7 linked regions of the Homo sapiens genome follow. The protein of the gene in region 1 interacts with the protein of each later gene in a pairwise test. Each region holds a gene or a part of one and is shown in the gene's direction. Other genes may lie near its edges. The genes, in order: NEK6, UBXN11, SAXO5, ZNF343, GOLGA6L2, KIAA1328 and PTPN21.

Evidence for each region.
Region 2: the proteins of NEK6 (region 1) and UBXN11 interact in binary tests that used the Homo sapiens proteins (3 or more experiments, as listed by UniProt).
Region 3: the proteins of NEK6 (region 1) and SAXO5 interact in binary tests that used the Homo sapiens proteins (3 or more experiments, as listed by UniProt).
Region 4: the proteins of NEK6 (region 1) and ZNF343 interact in binary tests that used the Homo sapiens proteins (3 or more experiments, as listed by UniProt).
Region 5: the proteins of NEK6 (region 1) and GOLGA6L2 interact in binary tests that used the Homo sapiens proteins (3 or more experiments, as listed by UniProt).
Region 6: the proteins of NEK6 (region 1) and KIAA1328 interact in binary tests that used the Homo sapiens proteins (3 or more experiments, as listed by UniProt).
Region 7: the proteins of NEK6 (region 1) and PTPN21 interact in binary tests that used the Homo sapiens proteins (3 or more experiments, as listed by UniProt).

What each region holds. Positions count from the first base shown.
Region 1 is NC_000009.12:124,327,449-124,330,948, forward strand, and holds part of NEK6 (serine/threonine-protein kinase Nek6), read left to right. Parts: intron 1-3,500. UniProt on the Homo sapiens protein: Protein kinase which plays an important role in mitotic cell cycle progression. Required for chromosome segregation at metaphase-anaphase transition, robust mitotic spindle formation and cytokinesis.
Region 2 is NC_000001.11:26,296,637-26,300,136, reverse strand, and holds part of UBXN11 (UBX domain-containing protein 11), read left to right. Parts: intron 1-2,074; coding exon 2,075-2,175; intron 2,176-2,655; coding exon 2,656-2,710; intron 2,711-3,141; coding exon 3,142-3,218; intron 3,219-3,500. UniProt on the Homo sapiens protein: May be involved in the reorganization of actin cytoskeleton mediated by RND1, RND2 and RND3. Promotes RHOA activation mediated by GNA12 and GNA13.
Region 3 is NC_000019.10:7,496,273-7,500,347, forward strand, and holds the start of SAXO5 (stabilizer of axonemal microtubules 5), read left to right. Parts: upstream 1-1,275; 5' UTR 1,276-1,410; intron 1,411-4,075.
Region 4 is NC_000020.11:2,491,916-2,495,415, reverse strand, and holds part of ZNF343 (zinc finger protein 343), read left to right. Parts: exon of another isoform or gene 1-1; intron 2-1,371; 5' UTR 1,372-1,520; coding exon 1,521-1,638; exon of another isoform or gene 1,639-1,665; coding exon of another isoform or gene 1,666-1,723; intron 1,724-1,838; coding exon 1,839-1,897; intron 1,898-2,590; coding exon 2,591-2,717; intron 2,718-3,331; coding exon of another isoform or gene 3,332-3,384; exon of another isoform or gene 3,385-3,500. UniProt on the Homo sapiens protein: May be involved in transcriptional regulation.
Region 5 is NC_000015.10:23,438,538-23,441,390, reverse strand, and holds the end of GOLGA6L2 (golgin subfamily A member 6-like protein 2), read left to right. Parts: coding exon 1-1,646; coding exon of another isoform or gene 1,647-1,848; 3' UTR 1,849-2,353; downstream 2,354-2,853.
Region 6 is NC_000018.10:36,835,627-36,839,126, forward strand, and holds part of KIAA1328 (protein hinderin), read left to right. Parts: intron 1-3,500. UniProt on the Homo sapiens protein: Competes with SMC1 for binding to SMC3. May affect the availability of SMC3 to engage in the formation of multimeric protein complexes.
Region 7 is NC_000014.9:88,471,508-88,475,007, reverse strand, and holds part of PTPN21 (tyrosine-protein phosphatase non-receptor type 21), read left to right. Parts: intron 1-1,205; coding exon 1,206-1,343; intron 1,344-2,542; coding exon 2,543-2,764; intron 2,765-3,500.

The sequences.
Region 1 (3,500 bases):
AGGGGGACCTGTCTGTGCCCCAGCAGCCCCCAGCGGTCCTGGTGACCATGCAGGGAGACGCAAACATTCTCCCCACGTGTGTTTGGTCAGTTAGTGCAGGAAGATGCCTTTTTTAAGCCCCAGGGTTTTCTCATCTGTTCAGAATAGTGACCCAGAAGGGAATCAGCTGTGGCCAGAGGAGCCCAGCTGGGGCTTCCCACACCCCCTGATCACCTCCCAGCCCTTGCGGGAGAAGCTGACTGAGCCGGTTGCTTGGAGCAGGGGGCGTGTCTGTGGCACAGGGCGGTCATCTTCCCACTGCTGTGAGTGTCCCGTTCACGGGCAGCACCCTTGGTCCATCCCTCCTAGGGGGTGGACATTTGCACTGTTCCTAGTTTCTGGCTTTTAAACTGGCGGTTTTGAGGCTGTGGGGACCAGGTGCCTGCCAGGGAGGAGGTGACATTGTAGCTGGACCATAAAGGGAGACCAGATGCTGTTGGGACAGGGAAGGGGAGGGAGCAGCGTTCCAGGAAACAGTGGGTGAGCCTCGGTGTGCGGCTGAGCTTGGCTTTGCCACAGACCAGGGTCCTTGCAGGAGTGGCATGAAAAGCGGGCAGGGCCTTGAACTCTGAGCTCAGTGGGCTGGACACCACCCTATGGGTCGGGGGGTGCTGAAGGGCTGGACTCCGGAAGAGACTTGGTCAGATGTGTTTTGGGGACAGGTGAAGCAATGGCAAGCTTCAGTATCCACACACTGGGTATGTAACCAAATGTGAAACTTGGAATGCTGTACGATGGGGGATTTTTCATTTAGTGAGAACAAAGGAACCAAGAAAGCCCCCGCTTCCCCACCAGTGGAACACAGGAGCAGGGTCTCCTGTGCGTTACTACAAGGCTGTCTGGGTTTCACCACGCCCATCTGTGGGAACATTTCCCAGAGGCCCATGGAGTGGGCGAGGGCCCCTGCTTTCTCAGGGCTATTTCCTGGCTCTTTGAGGTGTGTTTGCAGTGGAAGGTGCCCCCAGGCCCACCCCCTGTGTGCTGTGCCCACCAGCATCCGCTTCCCCAGGAGGGGGCTGGGCCCCAGGAGCTGCCCGCCGCCTCCTTGAACACCGCCCCATTCCAGCTCATTTCCACCCCACTCCATGGCTCAAGCCAGGACGTCTCCTATCCCCAGACCCCCGAGTGCCTGCGGCAAGCGGGGTGTGAGAGACAGCAGCATTGTCTGGGCGGAGGCACTTTCTGGAAGTCACAGTGTCTTGTGGAAAGTGTCACTGTTCATACAGGTTCCAGAGAGACTCTCAGCGCGTCACACACACTTAGGAGAAATGTACGAGCCTAGAGACCAGCGACTCCCAGCAGCTGATGGAGCCAGCGGGGCTGGCGGGGAGGGGGTTGTTTTGAAACTCTTGTCCCCACCTGGCCAGGCCTCAGGAGCTCTTCCTTTAGCTCCAAAGGGAAGATGTGTAGGGACCCACCCCCCAGGGAGTATGGGACGTTCCACTCATGCCCTTGACAGCCCCAAGCATCCAGCCATCCTTCCCTTTAGCAGAGGAAGAATCAGAAATCCAGGCGCTCGAGAGATTTTTCCGAGGTCACATGGCAGCAGGCCTCTCCTTCAGAACCCACGCTGCTTCCAGGAAACGAGGGCCGGGGGCCTCGGCAGATACCGTTGGAGTCCCCCTTTGGGGACCCGGGCCACTGACTCTCCGTTGCTGGAAGGAAGCCTCGTCTTTCCTTGTCCCCTCAAACATTTACTTCCCTTGTGAAAAACCAAGTGTTTCGGTCAGTTTGGGACTGTTTACCTGTGTGGTTGAAGGGCTTCGAAAAGACCAGGAAATTCAAGGGAAGCTGTCAAAGAGAAGAGTTAGAACCGCTGCGTCCTGTCCCCCGTCAGTCAGCACCGAGCCTTTCTCTGTCCCACTGCAGAAAAAAGACTGTGGCGCTCCGTCAGAGAGGGTTAGGATCGCATCATTAGGAATGGGCAGAGATGCGTCTCATCCGACAGTATGATTTTATTGACTTGGACTGGTGCACTTATTATATTAATGAGAAGGAATTGGAACTTGGGAGAAGGCCGCCCTCATAAGCCGGGCTCTTCCCAAGCCCTCCGAGCGCCGACCAGGCCACATGATGGGTGGAAGGAGCCCTCCTGGGGCCTGTCCCCACTCCGGGCTCTGTGCCCGGCATCCAGGAGAGATGCCCAATGAGCTGAGGCCTGCACGGAGCTGAGCAAGTCCCTGCCAGCAGGACAAGCTCCCAGAACCAAGGGCCTGCACCCACCAGGTTCTAGAATGGTGACAGTGCCAAGCTAAAGCCCAGGACCTGTATCTCCAAGACCCAGGGGAAAGACCCCTTCCACCAAGAGGTTCTGCAAACAGCTAAGTCTTGCACACACGTTTGGTTGGGCAAGAGATTGAACTAATTACCATTGCATCGTGACTCAGGAGGGGCACAGGGGCCAGGGACACTTCACGCCCTGTGCGTGGGGATGAATTATGCATCTGCCGCATCTCATGTGCACCTACTATGTGGGGATGCTGTGGTGGCAGCCACGTTGCCCCAGCAACCACCTCATCTCCTAAGGCTGCTGACCCAAGAGCTGGGCTTATGCAAATCTGGTCTCCTCCCACTTCCCCCCTCCCTGGGCCCCCTCCCCGCCTCTGTATTTGCTAACACGAGGCTGGCATGAAAGGGCATTAGTCAGTGCCATGGTCGGGCTGACAGGTGCGGTACCCAGCGGTGGCAGAGTGGCTGCCTCGGTGTCAGAAATAGGAGCCGTAATTAGAGCGCGGAACAGAATGAGCGTCAGACGAATTACCAGGCAGCAGATCATATTTGTCAGGAAGGATTGCATACATAAAAATTAAGTGACAGTACACGCCGGCGTAATGCAGGAAAAATGAAAGATTTGCCTATACACAGCTCACAAGCTACAAGCAAGTGTCTCGCTCCGAGCAACGGCAGCAGCTGCAAGACAAATCACGGGGCTGGGAGAGCGGGCGGGCAGGCCTGGCTCCTCGGCTGTAGTGACAGGACAGTCTCGGTGACAGGCAGCCACGGGTGACAGGGCAGGAAGGGCGGCTGGTCACACCCAGGCCCATGCAGGGCCCGTGCTGCCTCTTGGGGGCTGGGAGAGCAAGTCTAGTTGGGGGTGACCCCATCAGGTACTCGAGGTCACGGCCCTGCTGGGTCTCCCAGGGCTTAGCCTGGCGCTGAGGCGCAAACCCCTTCCTTCTTCTTCCTTGAGCAAACTGCCTGGCCCTGGGCTGTGTGCTGGGGATATGCGATTATGCAGCTTTCGAGGGGACAGACACAGTCCATGCCAGGTGGCATGGTGAGGGGACAGGTGGGACTGCCTCTTGGGGCCCACTGTGGGCAGGCAGGGCAGGCGTGGGGCTCTGTGATTCTATACAGAGCCCCAGGGAGCCCAGGGTGGCTCCACCCCTCCCAGAGCCGCCCTCACTTCGTTACTCTGTAGCCACTGAACTCACTGAAAAGATGAGTTAAAGACGGAGAAA
Region 2 (3,500 bases), on another chromosome or scaffold:
TTCCATTTTACCGGAGGAGGGAATTGAGGTGGAAAAAGAGACAGGAAGAGCCTGGCCTAAGGTTCTGCGGCCATTTCACCACAAAGCCAAGATCTCCTATACCCTGGCTGGGGTCAACTTTCTTTTTTATTTTATTTTTTTTGAGACAGGGTTTTGCTCTGTCATCCAGGCTGGAGTGCAGTGGTGCGATCATGGCTCACTGCAACCTCAGCCTCCCAGGCACAATCAGTCCTCCTGCCTCAGCCTCCCAAAGTGCTGGGATTACAGGCATGAGCCACCATACCCAGCCAGGTCACTTTCAGTAGTAACCATGGCAACCAGGTTCTCTCTTTGAAAGAGCTCCAGGTGTCCTCTCCCTGCTTTCCCCTGTCATCCCCTCCTCTCCCACTCCCAGCCAATATCTGTCCCTACCAAGGTAACAGATGAGGACTTGCCTATCTTATTTTACTTCTCTGCCAGCAGTGTCCTATACTGTCCACTGCTCCTTCCTTCTCAGGACCTCCACCAAGCTCTTAGGCACCAAGCTGCTGCCCTCCCATTACCCTCTGCTTCTAGGCTCTGTCTCTTAGCTGTCATCACCACCTCCTTTTTTCTCTCAGGTTTTTTTTTTGTTTTTTTTTTTTTTGGAGACTGCCTTGCTCTGTTGCCCAGCCTGGAGTGCAGCGGTGCAAATCACTACTTACTGCAGCCTCGACCTGTCAGGCTCAAGCAGTCCTCCCACTTCAGCCTCTCAAGTAGCTGGGACTACAGACACACACCACCATGCCTGGCTAATTTTTGTATTTTTAGTAGAGACAGGGTTTCTCTATGTTGCTCAGGCTGGTCTCGAACTCCTGGTCTCAAGTGATCTGCCCGCCTCGGCCTCCCAAAGTGCTGGGATTACAGGTGCGAGCCACTGCACCCAGGCCCTCAGCTTTTCAATGTGATGTTCCTCTGGCCTGGATTCTCCTCTGTGTCCACTGTGCCCCAGTGAGCTCACCTGCACTCCATGTGTAGACAGTTCCCAAATGTTTGTCAATTAAGATGCATTTAACTATAAGTCAAAGAAAACCCTTCCTCAGCCAACAAGAACATTAAGGAAGTTTTGTTATCCCACATGCAAAGAAATCCTAAAGAGGCAGCTCCAGGGGTGTTAATTCAGTGACTCCAAGACATCATCAGGGGCTCAGGTTTCTCCATCTTTCCACTGAACCTGCCTTGACATGTCAGCCTCATGTGGTTGTAGGATGATGGCCGCGGTTCCTGCTTCATACATAGAAAGGACACTGTCTAGGGGAAGAAAAGGAAAAGGCCTGCTTCTTCCTGTAGGTTTCTCTTCTTTTCCATTTTCATACTTTTTTTTTTTTTTTTTTTTTTCTGAGACAGAGTCCCTCACTCTGTTACCCAGGCTGGAGTGCAGTGGTGCGATCTTGGCTCACTGCAACCTCCGCCTCCTGGGTTCAAGCGATTCTCGAGTAGCTGGGATTACAGGCACCTGCCACCACGCCCGGCTGATTTTTGTATTTTTAGTAGAGGCAGGGTTTCACCATGTTGGCCAGGCTGGTTTTGGACTCCTGGCCTCAAGTGATCCACCTGCCTTGGCCTCCCAAAGTGCTGGGATTACAGGCATGAGCCACCGCATGCCCGGCCCTGGCTACTGTTTTCTACAGCACCCCGCATTCTGGCTTTGTCTGGCAGTTTGCCCGTGGGGTATTTGCCTCACTCCTCTATCTGCTGTTTTGCGTACCAACTGGACACTAGATTTGGAGGTTTGATTAGATCGAGGGTGAAATTCTTGGCAATGCTTCAGGGTGATGTCACCCATATGTTACACCACTTCCTTGTATATGTTGGACAAATTACTTGATCCCTTTGTGTCTCAGTTTCCTAAAACAGTTCATTTACCTCCTGGGTGTGTTTCAAGGATTACAGGGGGTTGATCTACATGAAGTGTTTAGAACAGTTCCTATGATGCCAGTGGGAGCTGCTCTCAGTACCTTCATTTCCATTCCTGGGACCCCTATCCTCCTCCCTCCCCCCCACAACTCAGCCTCGGCTCTAGGTCTGGGCTCTAAAGACTTTGTGTGCTTGGCAGTCCCTGCATCCCATGACTCGGAGCTGATGGCCTTCATGACGAGGAAGTTGTGGGACCTGGAGCAGCAGGTGAAGGCCCAGACTGATGAGATACTGTCCAAGGTGGGGCTCCAGGTGGGAGAGGGCCAGGGGCCGGTCTGAGAGGTGGAGGGACTGGGCTGGGGAGGCCAGGAGTTGGACTAGGGTGGGTGATTCTAGAACCGTCTACCACACTGACCTGCCCAGTTCGAGGACCAGGTGTGGCCTGGGCCTGATCTAGGTCCTGTGACCTGAGCCGAGAGGCTGGGGGGTCTTCCCCTCAGCTGAGCAGGACCCAGTAGACCCTGGACTGGGTGGCACAGTGGACTGCTGAGCAGAGCGCGGCACCCTCAGATGTGGGGGTCCTCAGGTGTGGGCCGCACCTCTCCCTACCTCAGAGGAACTGCGAGGGTTATCTGAGGTCCGGGAGAAGTGGCTGTGCCAAAGGGTGGCAGGGGCTTGCTGCTCCCCAGCATCCAACATAGGCAAAGCTCTGGAGCTTCCTGTCTGGGCAGGGCTCTGGGAACCACAGGCCCTGTGCTCACCCTGTGTCTTATGCTACAGGATCAGAAGATAGCGGCCCTAGAGGACCTGGTGCAGACCCTCCGGCCACACCCAGGTAGGGGGCTCTTGGAGGGCTGACCTGCGCCCCCAGTCAGGCACCTCCCCTGGGCCCAGGGCTCCTGGAAGCTTCACAATGGCTTCTGGCATCAAGAGCATCAAGCTGACTACTTGGTGGGGTCTGGACAGCTGAGCCCACAGAGGGGCTGCAGCATATCCAGGACAGTGCTGGAGTCACTCCATGCCCTCCTACATGGGACCGAGTCCCATCTGAAGTGTGGAGGAGAGGAGGCTCTGAGGGGAGTGGCAGCCTCCTAGGGCCCATCAAGGCACCGCCACGGGGTCAGAGGAGAGGCCAGAGAGGTGGGGGGCCAAGAGGCAGTTCTTGGGGGATCCCCAGAACAGCTTCTCCAGATGACCCTCAGGGCAGAGGTGACCTGGCAGTGTCTTGCTGGGGCAGCTGAAGCCTGTCCCTGTCTTTCCCTGAAGCCGAGGCAACCCTGCAGCGGCAGGAGGAACTGGAGACGATGTGTGTGCAGCTGCAGCGGCAGGTCAGGGAGATGGAGGTGAGAGAGCTGGGCCCCGGGGGATGCGGGCAGCCAGCAGTCCCCAGCTCTTCACGGCATGTTCCTCAGGAGCTGGGTCCGAGCCCACCTCTCTGGGCCTCTCCTCGTCACATCCCACCCAGGGACCCTGCCCTGCATTTCCCTACCCAGGACTGGCCCAGACTTTAAAGAGCCAGGGAGGTGTCTGGGGCTGGGGCACACCCCTGCTTTTGGGCCCTCTGAACATGCCTCTCCCCTGCTTAGCAGACCTCATGGCTCCCACTGAACTGAATTCTACAGTCC
Region 3 (4,075 bases), on another chromosome or scaffold:
CGTGAGCCACCACACCAAGCCACAACAGCCCTTTTCTGGACGCTACTTTGGGAGGCTGAGATTACAAATGTGAGCCACCATGCCTCACCTGTGTGTTGTTTTTATTTGTTTTTATCTGCTCATCTCAAAAAAGAAAGTAAAATTTCCAACCAATAAATTCATCCCACCCAAATCCCCTACTTCCTTAAGCTGTGCCCCCAAAACACCGAGCAGAATTGCAAATCCCATAATAAGTGCTTTCTGGCCGGGCGTGGTGGCTCACGCCTATAATCCCAGCACTTCGGGAGACTGAAGCGAGCGGATCACCCGAGGTCGGCAATTCGAAACCAGCCTGACCAACATGGAAAAACCCCATCTCTACTAAAAATACAAAATTAGCTGGGTGTGGTGGCACATGCCTATAATCCCAGCTACTCGGGAGCCTGAGGCAGGAGAATCACTTGAAGCCGGAGGTTGCGATGAGCTGAGATCGTGCCACTGCACCCCAGCCTGGGCAACAAGAGCGAAACTCCATCTCAAATAAATAAATAAATAAATAAATAGCGAAAAAAAGTTCTTTCTAACACCTCCCTACTGAGACCGCCATAGTGCCCTATGACATGTATGAGCTCTCTCTCCCTCTCTCTTTCTTTCTCTCTCTCTCTCTGATGAATAATAAGCTTGAATGTGTTCAATCACAGGTACATTCCTGGTGGTCTTTGACTGGGGAAGGAGGGGTGACCGGCCCCTTTAAAGGGAGATCTGTGAGCCCTAGAATAATATCAAGAGGTGCAGTGATTCAGGGAAGTGGGTCCATTCTGTGTGGGGTGTGTAGAAGGTAGAGGGACAGAAAAACTTTAGAGGATGATAATAATAATGGACACCAGCAGCCTATTTAATCAAATCCTCAATACTGACACTGCTTTCTGAACTGGCTACCATCATTAGTCCCCTTTTGCAGATGACAAAACCTAAGTCCTAGCCAGGCATGGTGGCACACACCTGTGGACCCACCCACTTGGGAGGCTGAGGCGAGAGGATCGCTTGAGCCCAGGACTTCAAGTCCAGCCTGGGCAACATAGCGAGAGCTTACCTCAAAAACAAAACCAACCGAACAAAACCCCAGAGGCTCCAAAAAGTCAATTACTTGCCTGGGTTCCTGGAGCTCTAAGGAGGCAGTATTCGCACCAAGCCTGCCTGCTAATTTTCCTCCCGGCTGCCCCTAGAGGTGCTGAGTGGTCATTGTGACAGTATCATTACACAAAGGAAGCTCTTGGGGTCACAATGCGCAGGGCTGGACCACCCTTGGATGCAGCCTGGGAAGGAACATGAGGATCCTCTGAGAGACCAGGGACAGAGGGAGACCCAAAGATCTGGTCTGTAGCTAAGTGAATTTTCTAAAACTCATTGATTCACACGCCATCCCTTGAGGTAGGTGCACTGTCCTCGTCCCTGATGTACAGAGGTGAAAACTGAGGCTCATGGGAGCTTAATGACTTATTCCAAGATTACCTGGCTAGTAGTCTCAGTTGTTGGATTCTCTGATGACCCATTTTGGAGGTCATATTCAACTCTCAACTATTGCAGGGGGCAAATGATTCAAAAAGCAGCAAACTCAGCCAGGCGCGGTGGCTCATGCCTGTAATCCCAGCATTTTGGGAGGCCGAGGAGGGTGGATCACCTGAGGCTAGGAGTTCGAGACCAGGCTGGCCAACATGGCGAAACCCCGTCTCTACTAAAAATACAAAAATTGGCCGGGCGTGGTGGCGGACACCTACAGTCCCAGCTACTCTGGAGGCTGAGGTGGGAGAATCGCTTGAATCCAGGAGGAAGAGGTTGCAGTGAGCTGAGAAAAAAAAAAAAGCAACAAACTTACACACTGAAAAACTGTGGTTTCATTAAAACACACACACACACATACACACACACACACACACACACACACACACCCTTCATCCATGTTTTCTTTCTATTTTTGTGATGGGGTTTCGCTCTGTCACCCAGGCTGGAGTGCGGTAGCGTGGTCTCGGATCACTGCAACCTCTGCCACCCAGGTTCAAGCGGTTCTCCCGCCTCAGCCTTCTGAGTAGCTGGGATGACAGGTGCATACTACCATGCCCAGCTAATTTTTGTATTTTTTTCTTTTTTTTTTTTTTTTTTTTGAGACAGAGTTTCGCTCTTGTTGCCCAGGCTGGAGTGCAATGGCGCAATCTTGGCTCACCACGACTTCTGCCTCCTGGGTTCAAGCTATTCTCCTGCCTCAGCCTCTGGAGTAGCTGGGATTACAGGCATGCGCCACCACGCCTGACTAATTTTGTATTTTTAGTAGAGATGGGGTTTCTCCATGTTGGTCAGGCTGGTCTTGAACTCCGACCTCAGGAGATCTGCCCACCTCGGCCTCCCAAAGTGCTGGGATTATAGGCCTGAGCCACTGCACCCGTCTGATCCATGTTTTCTAAATAGGTAGAGGTAAGCAGGTTTTGTGGGTTGAAGTGATCTGGGAGGTCTTCCTGCAAGAGGTGAGCCTGAGAACTTGGAATGCTGGTCTCCAAGGGAGACAGAGAGGAGAGCATGGGAGACACTTGTGATCTAAGCAAAGGCAAGAAAGTCCCAGGTGACTGAGCAGAGGCGGAGGGTCAGGGGAGGCTTGGAGTCTGAAGCTGAAGGTCAGAGGAGAGAGCTAACTCTCAGAAGGTGTGAAGACAGGAAGAGATTGAGAATAGGCAGGACCTAGGACAACTGCAGAGCAGGGGAAAACCAGTAAGAAAGTGCGTGGCAGGCCGGGCACAGTGGCTCACACCTGTCATCCCAGCACTTTGGGAGGCCAAGGCAGACAGATCACTTGAGGTCAGGAGTTCGAGACCAGCCTGACCAATGTGGTGAAACCCCGTCTCTACCAAAAATACAAAACTTAGACGGGCATGGTGGCAGGTACCTGTTATCCCAGCTACTTGGGAGGCTGAGGCAGGAGAGTCAGTTGAATCCAGGAGGTGGAGGTTGCAGTGAGCTGAGATCGTGCCACTGTACTCCAGCCTGGGGGACAGAGTGAGACTCTGTCACAAAAAGAAAAGGAAAGAAAGAAAGAGAGAGAAGGTAGGGAAGTGAAAGGAGCGGAGGGGAGGGGGGAGGGGCGGGGGAGGGGGAGAGAAGGGAGAAAAAGTGTGGCAGAAACGGAGATGGCCAGTGGCTGGGGTGCAGGGCTGGAGTTAGGCAGAGGAACAAAAATGGGTCCCCCAGAGGGGAAGAAGGAGAAAACCGTGGCCTTGACAACTGACTGAGGGTGAGAAGACGCGGTTCTTGTATCAGACATACAGTAGAATGCAGTGGTTAATTCTCCAAGTTCTAGAATCAGAGTCGCCCTGGGTTCAAATCTCAAGCAAATGACCACCTCCCTGAGCCTCAATGTCTTTTGTGAAGCAGTGGTTAAAACCTACCCTTGGCCAGGCATGGTGGCTAACACCTGTAATCCCAGCACTTTGGGAGGCTGAGGCAGAAGGGTTGCTTGAGCCCAGGAGTTTGAGACCAGCCTGAGCAACATAGCCAGACCCCTGTCTCTAAAAAAAAAAATAGAAAGAATTAGCCATGCATGGTGGTGCACACCTATAGTCCCAGATGCTCAGAAGACTGAGGTGAGAGGACCGTTTGAGCCCAAGAGGTTGAGCCCACCACACTTGTCTAATTTGTGTGTGTGTGTGTGTGTGTGTGTGTGTGTGTGGAGACGGGGTCCCACTATATTGCCCAGGCTGGTCCTGAACTCCCGGGCTCAAGCAGTCCTCTTGCTCTGACCTCTCACTGTGCCTGGATACAGGTGTGAGTCACAGTACCCAGCTATTACCTTCTAACCTACTCTTCAATTTTTGTTGTTATATTTTTTATTATTGTCTGTCATCTCCCGCCCCATTATCAATTCCACAAAGGCAGGGATCTAGGTCTATTTTGTGAACTAATGTTAGTTCCCCACCCCTGCTGGCCTCCAGGCCTAGAGTAGGGACAGAAATCATTTATGTGGTGCCTACTGTGTGCCAGGCCTACAGTAGGCACCACATGAAAGATTTTTTTTTATGTTTTGAGACGGAGTCTCGCTCTGTCGTCCAGG
Region 4 (3,500 bases), on another chromosome or scaffold:
GGCAAGTTACAAGGTCAAGCCTGATGTCTGGGACAGGGAAGTACCATCCTTTTATAGGGCAACAAATAATTGGGAACGATGATAAAATCTACCACAAAGGCCTCTTTTATTCTAATCACTAGAATTATATTAGCAAAAAGACTGAGAAGCATTTCATCTTACAAGAAGCTTCACAGTTTAGTAAAGACAGTCACGTAAATAGAGAAATTGCAATATGGTATGATGGCCAGGTTGGACAGAAGAGGGAGTGGTCATCTCTACCTATGGTGTTGAGGGATGAATTACAAGAGCTGCTTAGAGACCCCAGCTAGTCTCAGAAGGGTACTAGGCAACAATAGGCCTGTAGCCATTTGGGCTGAAATCCTGGACAGCGTCTGAGGAGCTTTTGAAGGTGGCATAGCTCCTAATACCACCTGCCTTCTTTGGGACCACATCAGTGTAGGACTTTGACTTGGGCCCATCAGGATACACAAATGCACATCTGTGGTAAGGTCATGTGGTAGACATGCATAGCAATGGAAGCTAGGAGGTTATCTCTTCAGAGTAATTGTGAGAACTGGAGCTCTCCCTTAACTAAGAAGGACTGAGTTTTGATCTCCTAAACTCCTCACAATACAGGGACATAGGGATTTTTTTTTTTTTTCTTGAGACAGGGTCTTACTCCTGCCGTCCAGGCTAGAGTGCAATGGCATGATCTCAGCTCACTGCAGCCTCGACTTCCCGAGGTCAGGTGATCCTCCCACCTCAGCCTGCTGAGTAGCTGGGACTACAGGCGCACACCACCATGCCCAGCTGATTTTTGTATTTTTTGTAGAGACGGCATTTCGCTATGTTGCCCAGACTGGTCTTGAGCTCCTGAGCTTAAGTGATTAGCTTGCCGTGGCCTCCCAAAGTACTGAGATTACAGGTGTGAACCACTGTGCCCATCCAAGACACAAGGAACTGAATATAGATGGAACCTTGGGTTGGGGCAGGGGAATCAGAAGCTGAGTTCTGCACGCCCCAGTTGGTCTACAGGAAACAGTCAGAGGCTCTTTCTCCACAGGCATTATGCTATATTCTGTCTTCTCTCTGACTCAGGCTTCAGGTAGTAGCAGAGACTGATCCAAAACATAGAGTTTGAATCTGAGGTGCAGAGGCAGAAGAAGTAAAGTTTGAGAGCTAAGGGAGAGTGGCAGAACACAAGCAGGAGGGCCTAGAAATGAAGGTAGAGTGAATGAAGGTAGAAAATCCAGGGATCCCATGTAGATGGAGACTCCGTGTTTGTTGAATGAGGAGGGTGTGAGAGGACAGGATCCCTGTTGAAGAGGCATAGGCCTAGGGCCCACAATAAAAGCCCCAGCAATAGCAAATTGCTTCTTCATCCCACAGGTCCTGGCTGCAGGGAAACAAGCTGGGCTTTTTATAATTAAGGTTGGAAGAAGTCACCACAGGCAGCAGAACTCCATCTTGAGATGAAATAACATCTACCTGGACCTCTGGCAGAATTTCAAGGCACACACTGGGCTGACTCTGGCGCCATGATGTTGCCTTATCCTTCAGCACTGGGAGATCAATACTGGGAAGAGATTTTGCTTCCAAAGAATGGGGAAAATGTAGAGACTATGAAGAAATTGACCCAAAATCATAAAGCGAAAGGTGAGAATTGTTGAGGGAGCCGGAGGGATGAAGAGGAAGCCAAGGCTCCAGGTTCACCTGAAAATGCTTCAGAGGTCACCTCTGAGTTAAGTGACTACTTCCTTCATCCTAAGGCTCAGAAGAGCTGCTCAGGGAGCGTCATGGTGGGGGGTGGGGGGTGGGGGGGTCTGGTTTCTCATAGCTTCTTTTTCTTTCCCTAGGCTTGCCTTCTAATGATACTGACTGCCCCCAGAAAAAGGAGGGAAAGGCCCAAATAGTGGTGAGTTGGGGTTACATTTTTTTTTTTTCCTGAAGTGCTGGCTCATTTTCCAGAGAATAGACATATATTCTCTTTCTTGGGAAAGGAAAAGGCGGTCAACATCTGGGTAGATGAGTGAAGCATTAGGCTTTCTTGAAAAAAGTTGTCAAAGCACATAGCAAAGACAGGGATTTTACAGATCCCATTTAGTAACCTGAGCTTTTAAAAAATGCTCATTCCAGACCCCATCTGTTCACTCCCATTTTTCTCTGTAATCCAAGTTTTCTTCCATTCTCTCCTCTAAATCTTTACCACTCCCTACTGCCCAGCACAAGCCCCAAGTCCATGATGCTTTTGTTCCTTCTGCAGCCCATTCTCTGCTGTTTCATCTCTGAATTCCTTCATTATGAATCCTCAAAGTCACTGTCTTAAACACAGCCTGAGGTTTACAAATTAATTCACAAATCATTTCTCCGGTGAAATCATATATGTCAAGGGCCTAGAATGTGTTCTGTGCTCAGTTATGCTCCTCACAGGTTTTAACAGAAAGCCAGGCAGACAGTAGTGCTCAGAAGAACTTCATATGGAGAACCATATATTCTGACGAATTACATCAACTTGCATATCCAGGCTCTCCAGGGTCACCAGCTGTGCTCCACACACAGGGAAGATTGATGGTGGCTTGCTATACATTAATTTACTGGTTGTTTGTAGGTACCAGTTACATTCAGGGATGTGACTGTGATCTTCACAGAAGCAGAATGGAAGAGACTGAGTCCAGAGCAGAGGAATCTATACAAAGAAGTGATGCTGGAGAATTACAGGAATCTTCTCTCATTGGGTAAGGCTGTGTTCTTTCCTTTCCTTCATTAATTCAGTAGAGATTTACTGATCACCTAATATGTACCACAAAAAAATGTTCTAGATACTTACAACACATTAGTAAACAAAATCGTAATCCCTGCCTCCATGGGGCTTACTTTCTAGTGTAAGGAGACAGACAACAAACAAAAAGCCTCATATACAGGGATATTATAATATGGTATGTTAAAAGGTGATAAGTGCAACATAGTAAAAAATAATGAAATAAGGCAGGATAAAGGGGTATTGGGTGTGATAGGGTGGCTGGCTGAAGTTTAAAACTGGGTATTTGAAATCAGTGAAGAAGTAATATTTGTCTAAAGACATAATGTGGTGAGGAGGTTAGAACTGTAGGTATCTAGTGTAAGAGCATTTCAGGTGAAGGGAATTATTGACACGAAGACCTTAATGAAGGGATGTACCTGCCCAGTATATGAAGCTGCAAGGAGGCAAGCAAGGCTGGGGGCATGGTTTGCAAGGGGGAGAGATGCAGCTCTGTGACATAAGTTAAAATTAAGAGTCAAGTTTATTGTGGTTTGGGGGTTTCATAAACTATGTTTTTTTCTTTTTCATTTGTTTACAAACCTAAACGAGGTCAGGAGATCGAGACCATCCTGGCCAACATAGTGAAATCCCATCTCTACTAAAAATACAAAAATTAGCTGAGCATGGTGGCATGTGCCTGTAATCTCAGCTACTTGGGAGCCTGAGGCAGGAGAATCACTTGAACCAGGGAGTCAGAGGTTGCAGTGAGCCGAGATTG
Region 5 (2,853 bases), on another chromosome or scaffold:
AGAAGATGCGGGAGCAGGAAGAGAAGATGTGGAGACAGGAGGAGAGGCTGTGGGAGCAGGAGAAGCAGATGCGGGAGCAGGAGCAGAAGATGCGGGACCAAGAGGAGAGGATGTGGGAGCAGGACGAGAGGCTACGGGAGAAGGAGGAGAGGATGCGGGAGCAGGAGAAGATGTGGGAGCAGGTGGAGAAGATGCGGGAGGAGAAGAAGATGCAGGAGCAGGAGAAGAAGACGCGGGACCAGGAGGAGAAGATGCAAGAGGAGGAGAGGATACGGGAGCGGGAGAAGAAGATGCGGGAAGAGGAGGAGACGATGCGGGAGCAGGAGGAGAAGATGCAGAAGCAGGAGGAGAATATGTGGGAGCAGGAAGAGAAGGAGTGGCAGCAGCAGAGGCTGCCGGAACAGAAGGAGAAGCTGTGGGAACAGGAGAAGATGCAGGAGCAGGAGGAGAAGATATGGGAGCAGGAGGAGAAGATACGGGACCAGGAGGAGATGTGGGGGCAGGAGAAGAAGATGTGGCGGCAGGAGAAGATGCGGGAGCAGGAAGATGTGGAGACAGGAGGAGAGGCTGCAGGAGCAGGAGAAGCAGATGTGGGAGCAGGAGGAGAAGATGCGGGATCAGGAGCAGAAGATGTGGGACCAGGAGGAGAGGATGTGGGAGCAGGACGAGAGGCTGCGGGAGAAGGAGGAGAGAATGCGGGAGCAGAAGAAGATGTGGCAGCAGGAGGAGAAGATGCGGGAGGAGAAGAAGACGCAGGAGCAGGAGAAGAAGACATGGGACCAGGAGGAGAAGATGCGAGAGGAGGAGAGGATGCGGGAGCGGGAGAAGAAGATGCGGGAGGAGGAGGAGATGATGCGGGAGCAGGAGGAGAAGATGCAGGAGCAGGAAGAGAAGATGCGGGAGCAGGAGGAGAAGATGTGGGAGCAGGAAGAGAAGATGCAGGAGCAGGAGGAGAAGATGTGGGAGCAGGAGGAGAAGATGTGGGAGCAGGAAGAAGAAGATGTGGGAGCAGCAGAGGCTGCCGGAACAGAAGGAGAAGCTGTGGGAACACGAGAAGATGCAGGAGCAGGAGATCAGGAGCAGAAGATGTGGGACCAGAAGGAGAGGATGTGGGAGCAGGACGAGAGGCTGCGGGAGAAGGAGGAGAGAATGCGGGAGCAGAAGATGTGGCAGCAGGTGGAGAAGATGCGGGAGAAGAAGAAGACGCAGGAGGAGAAGATGCAGGAGCAGCAAGAGAAGATGCAGGAGCAGGAGGAGATGATGTGGGAGCAGGAAGAGAAGATGCAGGAGCAGGAGGAGAAGATGTGGGAGCAGGAGGAGAAGATGCGGGAGCAGGAGGAGAAGATGCGGGAGCAGGAGGAGAAGATGCAGGGCCAGGAGGAGAAGATGCGGGAGCAGGAGGAGAAGATGCAGGGCCAGGAGGAGAAGATGCGGGAGCAGGAGGAGAAGATGCGGGGCCAGGAGGAGAAGATGTGGGGCCAGGAGGAGAAGATGTGGGGGCAGGAGGAGAAGATGTGGGGGCAGGAGGAGATGCGAGAGAAGGAGGAGAGGATACGAGATCAGAAAGAGAAGATGCAGGAGAGGCTGCCAGAGCACGAGGAGCGGTGCTCAGAGCCCTGCCTCCCTCCCTCCAAAGTTCTTTGTAATATGAGCCACACTGGCAGTGTGGAGCCTGCAGGAGGAGAGGCTGGGGAGGGTTCTCCGCAGGACAACCCCACTGCACAGGAGATCATGCAGCTGTTTTGTGGGATGAAGAACGCCCAGCAGTGCCCAGGATTAGGCAGTACCTCCTGCATCCCATTCTTCTACCGAGGAGACAAGAGAAAGATGAAGATCATCAATATCTAAAAGTTGGCACTGTCAACAAGGCCTACAGAAGCATAAGCCGCCATGTCACTGTGTGAATATAGTCTGAGCACAAACTTGAAAAAAAAAAAAAAAAAGAAAAGAAAATTTACTTTAAATTGTGGTAAAATACTAGCCAGGCCTTGTGGCCGAAACCTACAACCGCAGCACTTTGGGAGACCTAGAGGGGGTGGATCACCTGAGGTCAGGAGTTCAAGACCAGCCTGGCCAACATGATGAAACCCCGTCTCTACTAAAAATACAAGTTAGCCGGGCGTGGTTGTGCACGCCTGTAATCACAGCTACTCAGGAGGCTGCAGTGAGCCAAGATCACACCACCGCATTCCAGCCTGGATGACAGAGCGAGATTCCATCTCAAAAAAAAAAAAAAAGTTTCTACCTGAGGACTCTGATATCTATGTATGTTTCTATTGTTTTTCTTCTTGGTCTTTCTCATTTAGTCTTGTTTTGTTTTATGGCATTCCTAGTAAACTTTTATGTGCCTCCAGAGAGTATTGACTTTGACTTTATGGCACACAATTGGAGTAAGAGCAGATTGCCTTCATCTAGTTTGGGACTAAGCTAGTTCAAAGCAGGTTTTAGTTTGTGACGGCTGGTCTATTTTTTATTCATTTGGACTCCTAGGGGTGGCCCTTCCAGAGTTGCCACCAAGGTCCCATCTCCTTCCTGGGACCCAAATTCTCATTCAGCCCTGTGAGAGTGCCAAACATTCAGCTAGGCTTTCCAGCCTGTTAACTACCACTTCATAATACTCAGTTTCTTAGCCTCTTAGCCCTCTACTGTTGACCAATCACCAAATGTGGGAAAGCACTACAGACTGTCAGGCTCACCTCCCAGGCCTGGTCACTCAAGTTCTGGCTGAAGTCTCCCATTACCTTCAAACAATTGTTTTTGATGGGGGGGCACATTTTTGTCCAGTTTCTCTAACTGTTCTTGTGGGGAAGCTAATCTATAACAAGCTACTCTGCCTTTAGTGAAAGTTGAAAA
Region 6 (3,500 bases), on another chromosome or scaffold:
CAAAAGAACTACATTCTGATCTGTGTGGCATTGGTAAATCAAACTGATGAGAATTGCTTTTTAATTAGGCATCCTTTTTGATTTTTATTCTTGTGAATTTATTTGATAGATGAACCCTCGTAAAGATGAGGGACAAATCAATGACTAGGCATAGTAATAGTATCGGTGCATTCCTTTGGCACATGTCCTATCTGACCAGTTTATTTTACTTTAATTTTTGTTATATTTTCCCTCTGCAACCAGAGTTGTTCAATACCACTTCACACTCACTAGGATGTCTACACAAAACTTGTATATGAATGTTCTGGAATCTATAACCTGTGGACCAAATCCTTCTGCCTGTTTTATAAATAAAGGTTTTTTGGAATACAGCTGTGCTCATTGTTTTACATAATTGTCTATGGTTGCTTTTGTGTTACAATAGCAGGGTTGCTACAGAGACTGCATGCCCACAAGCTAAAAACATTTACTATCAGACCTTTTATAGAAAACTTTTTTCAGTCTGTGAATTATGTTCTCAAAGATATTTCCAGTGCCTCATTTATTACTACAGGATTTTACTGTGATTGAATCAAAAGGCCTACTTTACGTTACTTGTACCAGTGTACCCACTTCACACTGGGGTGTGAATAGTTGAATTTGCAAGTTCTTATCAAAAAAAGTTAAAAAATGTTTTTTCACATAATGGTTGATTTGTTTTACATTGAACAATAGCCTTCTTTTAGATTAAGTTCATATTTTTGTCCTATTGGCTATAACTTTTGATTGGATTATTTCAGTGGCTTCTTTAGAGATTATAGTATACATCTTTCATTTATCATAGCCTATTATCAAGTGATATTTTCCCACATTACCTATAGTTTAAGGACCTTTCAACACTGTACTTTATTTCTCACCTCCTGACTTTTTTGATATTGTTGTCATACATTTTACTTATGTGCACAGACCCCAAAATACATATTACATTTGCTTTAGTCAACTCTCTTTTTTTTCAAATTGAGATATAATTTGCATATAAAATTCACCTTTTTAAAGTGTACAGTTTATTATTTTGATTTTGTATGTGTTTATATTCACAGAGTTGTGGATCCATCACCACAATCTAGTTTCGAAACATTTTTATCACTCTAGAAAGAAACCCCATACCAATTAGGCACTTCTCATTCCCCAGTCATCTCAGCCCCTAGCAAACACTAATCTGCTTTCAGTCTCTATAGATTTGCTTGTTATTGATGTTGCATATAAAAGGAAATCACATAATATGTGGCCTTTTGTGACTGGCTTCTTTGATTTAGCATAATGATTTCAAGGTTCATCTATTCTGTATCATTACTTCATTCCTTTTTATGTCTGAATATACATTTTGTTTATCCATTTATCAGTCAATGGACATGTTCAACTTTCTAGCTATTATGAATAATTCTTCCATGATCATTCATATACAAGTTTTTGTGTAGACATATATTTTCAGTTCTCTTGTGTATATACCTATAAGTGAATTGCTGTGTCGTGTAGTTTTATGTTTAACCTTTTGACAAAATTCCAAACTGTTTTTTAAAGTGGTTACACCATGTTACATTCGACTAGCAATGTATGAGGATTCAGATTTCTCCACATTCTTGCCAACATTTATGTCCATCTTTTTTGAGGATGGCCACCCTAGTGGGTGTGAAGTGGTAATTCAATGTGATTTTGATTTGCATTTCCTTAATGACTAAATGATGATGAGCATGTTTTTATGTGCTTCTTGGCTATTTGTGTATCTTCGTCAGACAAATATCTAGTCATATCCTTTTTTAACTGAGTTATTTGTCTTAGTACTGTTAAGTTATGAGTTCTTTCTAAATTCCATTTACAAGTCCCTTATCAGATACATTATTTGCTAATATTTTTTCTCATTCTATGCATTGCCTTTTCACTTTTTTATTGGTGTTCTTTGAAGCACAGAAGTTTAAAATTTTGATGAAGTTCAGTTTATCTAGTGTTTTCTTCTGTCTCCTTTGCTTTGGTGTCATATCTGAGAAATTGTTGCCTAATCCAAGGTCACAAATATTTGTGCCTATTTTTTTTCTAAGAATTTTAAAGGTTTTACTCCTACATTTAGTTCTCATTCCATTTTGAGTTAATTTTTGTATATGGGGTGAGGTGGTAGTTTAACTTTATTCCTTTGCATGTAGATATCCAGTTGTCCCAGCACCATTTGTTAAAAAAACTGTCCTTTCCCCTTTGAATTTCTTGGCACCCTTGTCAAATATCTGTTGACCATAAGTGTAAGGGTTTATTTTTGGACTCTCTGTATTCTGTTCCATTGATTTATATTTTTATTTTTGGAATTAGGAAGTATAAGTCCTCCAACTTCTTCTTTTTCAAGATTGTTTTGGCTATTTTGGGTCCCAGTGTTTCCATAGGCATTATAGAATCAGCAAATGTTTTATACTTTTTGATGTTATTAGAAACACAGTTGTTTCTGAATTTCACTGTTGGATTGTTTATTGCTAGTATATAGAAATTCAGTTGATTTGTGAATTGATCTTGTATCCTGCAACTTTATCAAACTATTTCTAATCTAATAGTTCTTTTGTGAATTCCTTACCATTTTCTCTATATAAGATGAAGTTGTCTGTGAATAGAGATAGTTCACATATTCTTATTGGATGCCTTTATTCCATTTTGGATGCATTTTATTTTAATTGCCTTTTAAAGAAATTTTACAAATGCAACAGAAGTCTTTTAAATCTACTCATGTAGTTACCATTTCTGGTGTTTTCATTCTTTCACGTGTATCCAGATTTCCTAAAAGACTTCCTTTAACATTAGTTCAGGTATGCTAGGAAAGAATTTTTTCAGCTCACGTATGTCTGAAAAGTCTTTATTTCTCTTTCCTTTTCAAAAGATATTTTTGCTGGTTATAAAATTCTGAGTTGATAGTTTTATTCATTCAGTGCTTTAAAGATGTTGCTGCACTGTTGCCTGGCTTGTATTGTTTTTAAGAAGTTGGCTGTCATTTTTATTCCTCCTTATTTTTCTGTGTGTATGTGTTTAAATATGGCTGCTTTTAAGATTTTCTTCTTATCACTGGTTTTGAGCAATTTGGTTATAGTATACCCTGGAGTAATTTTTTTTTTTGAGGTGCAGAGTTGCTGTGTCGCCCAGGCTAGAGTGCAGTGGCACGATCTTGGTTTACTGCAACCTCCGCTTCCCAGGTTCAAGTGATTCTCCTACCTCAGCCTCCTGAGTAGCTGGGATTACGGGCGTGCACCGCCACACCCGGCTAATTTTTGTATTTTTAGTAGAGATGGGGTTTCACCATGTTGGTCAGGCTGGTCTCGAACTCCTGACCTCATTATCTGCCCGCCTCGGCCTCCCAAAGTGCTGGGATTACAGGTGTGAGCCACCATGCCCATCCTACCTTGGAGTAATTTTTAAAGTATCTCTTTTGTTTGAGGTTTGTTGAGCTTTTTGGGACTGTGGGTTTATAGTTTTCATCAAATTGGGAAATG
Region 7 (3,500 bases), on another chromosome or scaffold:
CCTTTCTCCTGCCTCAGCCTCCCGAGTAGCTGGGATTACAGGCATGTGCCACCACGCCCAGCTAATTTTTGTATTTTTAGTAGAGACGGGGTTTCACCATATTGGCCAGGATGGTCTCAATCTCCTGACCTCGGCCTCCCAAAGTGCTAGGATTACAGGCGTGATCCCCCGCACCTGGTCAACTTAGTGTTCTTATGCTTACTATTCTCAGAGAGGAAAATCATGCTCTAATAATAATTTTAGGAAACACTTGATTTCAGGAGACAAGATTTTGTTGATGCTTTCTCTTCTGTCCTATCCTCCTGGTGTCATGATGGAGATTTTAGCCCTGTTTTATTTTCCTTGTTTAAAAACGTAGCCGTTCTGAGAGGTAGCGTGATCTAACCCGGGTCATCTAAGTCTGCACTAGAATGCAGAGTAGCATATGAGGAGGGGGCTTAACACACAAAGGGGGCTGCTGCAGAAACCATTTAATTTTTCAGAATGACTTAAAGAATTTATATATTTTAAAAATTATAAAAAGCTGTCCGGGCATGGTGGCACACGCCTGTAATCTCAAGCACTTTGGGAGGCCAACACTGCTTAAGTTCAGTTGTTTGAGACCAGCCTGGGCAACATAGTGAGACCCCATCTCTACAAAACACACAAAGATTAGTTGGGCATGGTGGCATGTGCTGGTAGTCCCAGGTACTCGGGAGGTTCAGGTGGGATTGCTTGAGACTGGAGGTTGAGGCTGCAGTGAGCTATGATGGTGCCCCTGCATTCCATCCAGCCTGGGTGACAGAGTGAGACCCTCAAAAAAAAAATTTATAAAAGCTTACTATAGTCAATTGATTGCATTTAAAGCTTTTGTTTTTTTTTTTTTTTTTTTTTTTTGGACTTCAGCTGATTTGTTACGTCTGTCTTGTTTTAAAAGGAATGCAGTCTGCCTGGAGCCTCACCTTTCATTACAACAGAACTTTGTAACCAATAGTGTTTCAAAACCTTCTATCTGGAAGACTTTATCAGGGCTTTGGCCTTGAAAGGAATGTCTTCCTACTAATGTTTGTTAAACAAGTGGTGTGTGAAGGAGTGTAATCTTTCTGGGTTTATTGGCAAAGGAGAACACTCCCTCTGTGTGTTCCTGGTCTTCAGTGCATTGAAACTTCTTTTCACAGGGGTTGTATTTGTGTATATTTCATATATACATATAAATCCTTTTACAGGGAATGAAAAAGACTCGAGTAGATGCAAAAAAAATTGGTCCTCTTAAACTGGCTGCCCTAAATGGACTCTCCCTATCTCGAGTGCCTCTGCCTGATGAAGGAAAGGAAGTGGCTACCAGAGCAACGAATGATGAAAGGGTATGTATGGGACACACAGGGCTTTGTGCCTTCTCTGGAACAACCGGTAAATACTACGCAAATGCCTTCATGAGATTTTGGTGAATTTTCTAACACAATTTAATAATAAATGAGTGTTAAGGAATTTTGTAATATGGGCCTCAAAATTGGGGCAAATGTATAGCTAATGTCTTAATAGATAATTTCAGGTTCGAATGCTGATTTTTTGTTTGTTTGTTTCTCAGTGTTCTTTTTTACCTTCTCCTGGCCTTTTGGAGCAGTCTTGATTTTGATGGCCTTAAAGTGAGAAGAAATCTACAAAAATACAGGAGCATACAGGGGAAAAGCAGCAGACATTGACTTTTATTATACTGAAAGTTTATCTCGAGAGTAGTTTCTCAATTTTTCAAAACTTCCTTTGTGCCTGAGGTGTATTTTCTATGAGGTTTTATTACATCAAAATCAGATAGGCATACATTTGCTTTACAACGGGATCCTGGAGGTAGTTTCGAATATTTCCTACTGCTTTAGTCTTTTATATATCGTATGACATAAAATGGAAACATTTGTTCATAGCTGTTGGAACTCATTATCCGTCCCCTAGATTTACTTACTGTTCCCCAGGAGAATTCCATCTATTAGGGGTCACAAAATTGACCACAGATCTAGAGAAAATGAATTCAACAAATTTCTTTAGGCCAATTTTCAACTTTAAACAAAAGTTTGCATTATATTTCTCACCAAAATGATTGTCTTTTGTTCTTTTAACTCTTGTTGTTGTGGCTTTTTAAAATTTTAACTTCATTTTCACCTAGAATTTTGTTTCTGTTTTGGTTTTGGTTTGGTTTTTTTGAGATAGGTTCTCATGGTTCACTGCAGCCTCAACCTCCTGGGCTCAAGCAATCCTCCTGCCTCATCCTCCCAAGTAGATGGGACCACAGGCATGCACCACCACACCTGGCTCGTTTTTTAATTTTTTGCAGAGACGGGGTCTCACTGTGTTTCTCAGGCTGGTCCTGAACTCCTAGGCTCAAGTGATCCTCCCTCCTTGGCCTCCCAAAGTGCAGGGATTACAGGCATGAGACACCGTGCCCAACCTAGAATTTTCAATATTATACAGTGCTAGATTTGAAGCAGAAAACAAGATTTCAAATATACAGTCAAAAGGTAGCCACGACGTGTGGCTGTATTCATGTTATTACACATATTCTGTTTTATAGTGTAAAATTCTGGAACAACGATTAGAACAAGGAATGGTATTCACAGAATATGAAAGAATTCTTAAGAAACGGCTAGTTGATGGGGAGTGCTCAACAGCACGACTCCCTGAAAATGCAGAAAGAAATCGATTCCAAGATGTTCTTCCTTATGATGATGTGAGAGTGGAGTTGGTCCCAACTAAAGAAAACAACACTGGTTACATCAACGCATCACATATTAAGGTGAGAGGAACGCCTCAAGTAATCAACAGCACATGCAGTTTCAGTTAAGTTACAAGAATGGTAAGAATTGTATTCATGTCTGTTTAGAATTCAGATATTTTAAAATTTATTTTTATTGTATTGTTTTAGATAAACACCCTAGTTTTAAACATTTGTGACAAACTGTACTGCAAGCTGGGAAATCCACATACCAGTGCTAGATAAAAAGCGTCTATCAGACAGAGCCAAAGTCATGTCTACTCTCCATGTGCGAAACCACTCTGCCCCCAACACTGTTACCAGGACTCAGGGCGCACTTATTTGCCCGGCTTTTTTTTTTTTCTTTTGCCTTTTTTGAGATAGAGTCTTGCTCTGTCGCCCAGACAGGTGGAGTGCAGTGGTATGATCATGGCTCCCTACAGCCTTGACCTTGTGTTGCCTGGCTTTAGAACTTTGTCCTTCTAAATCTGAAGACCTCTTTTTAGCTCATAAATTCTGGGAGCCACTGAATTGCTAGTTTTTCCTCATCACATACTGACATGCATTTTTATGTAACAAAAGTGTCTGGGCTTTTTGATGGTGTTCACAAAAGCTTTCAACTTACCAAGGTGCCATCTGTTCTCTTTACATACTCTTTATAATAATTTTTAAGTATCATTTTTTTTCTTTGAAGAAGTGCTTTTTTCCTGGAACCAGTATAATGCCATTAAACTGGGGTAATGTTTATGGTGAGAGATAGGGGGTCCAGTTTTACTTT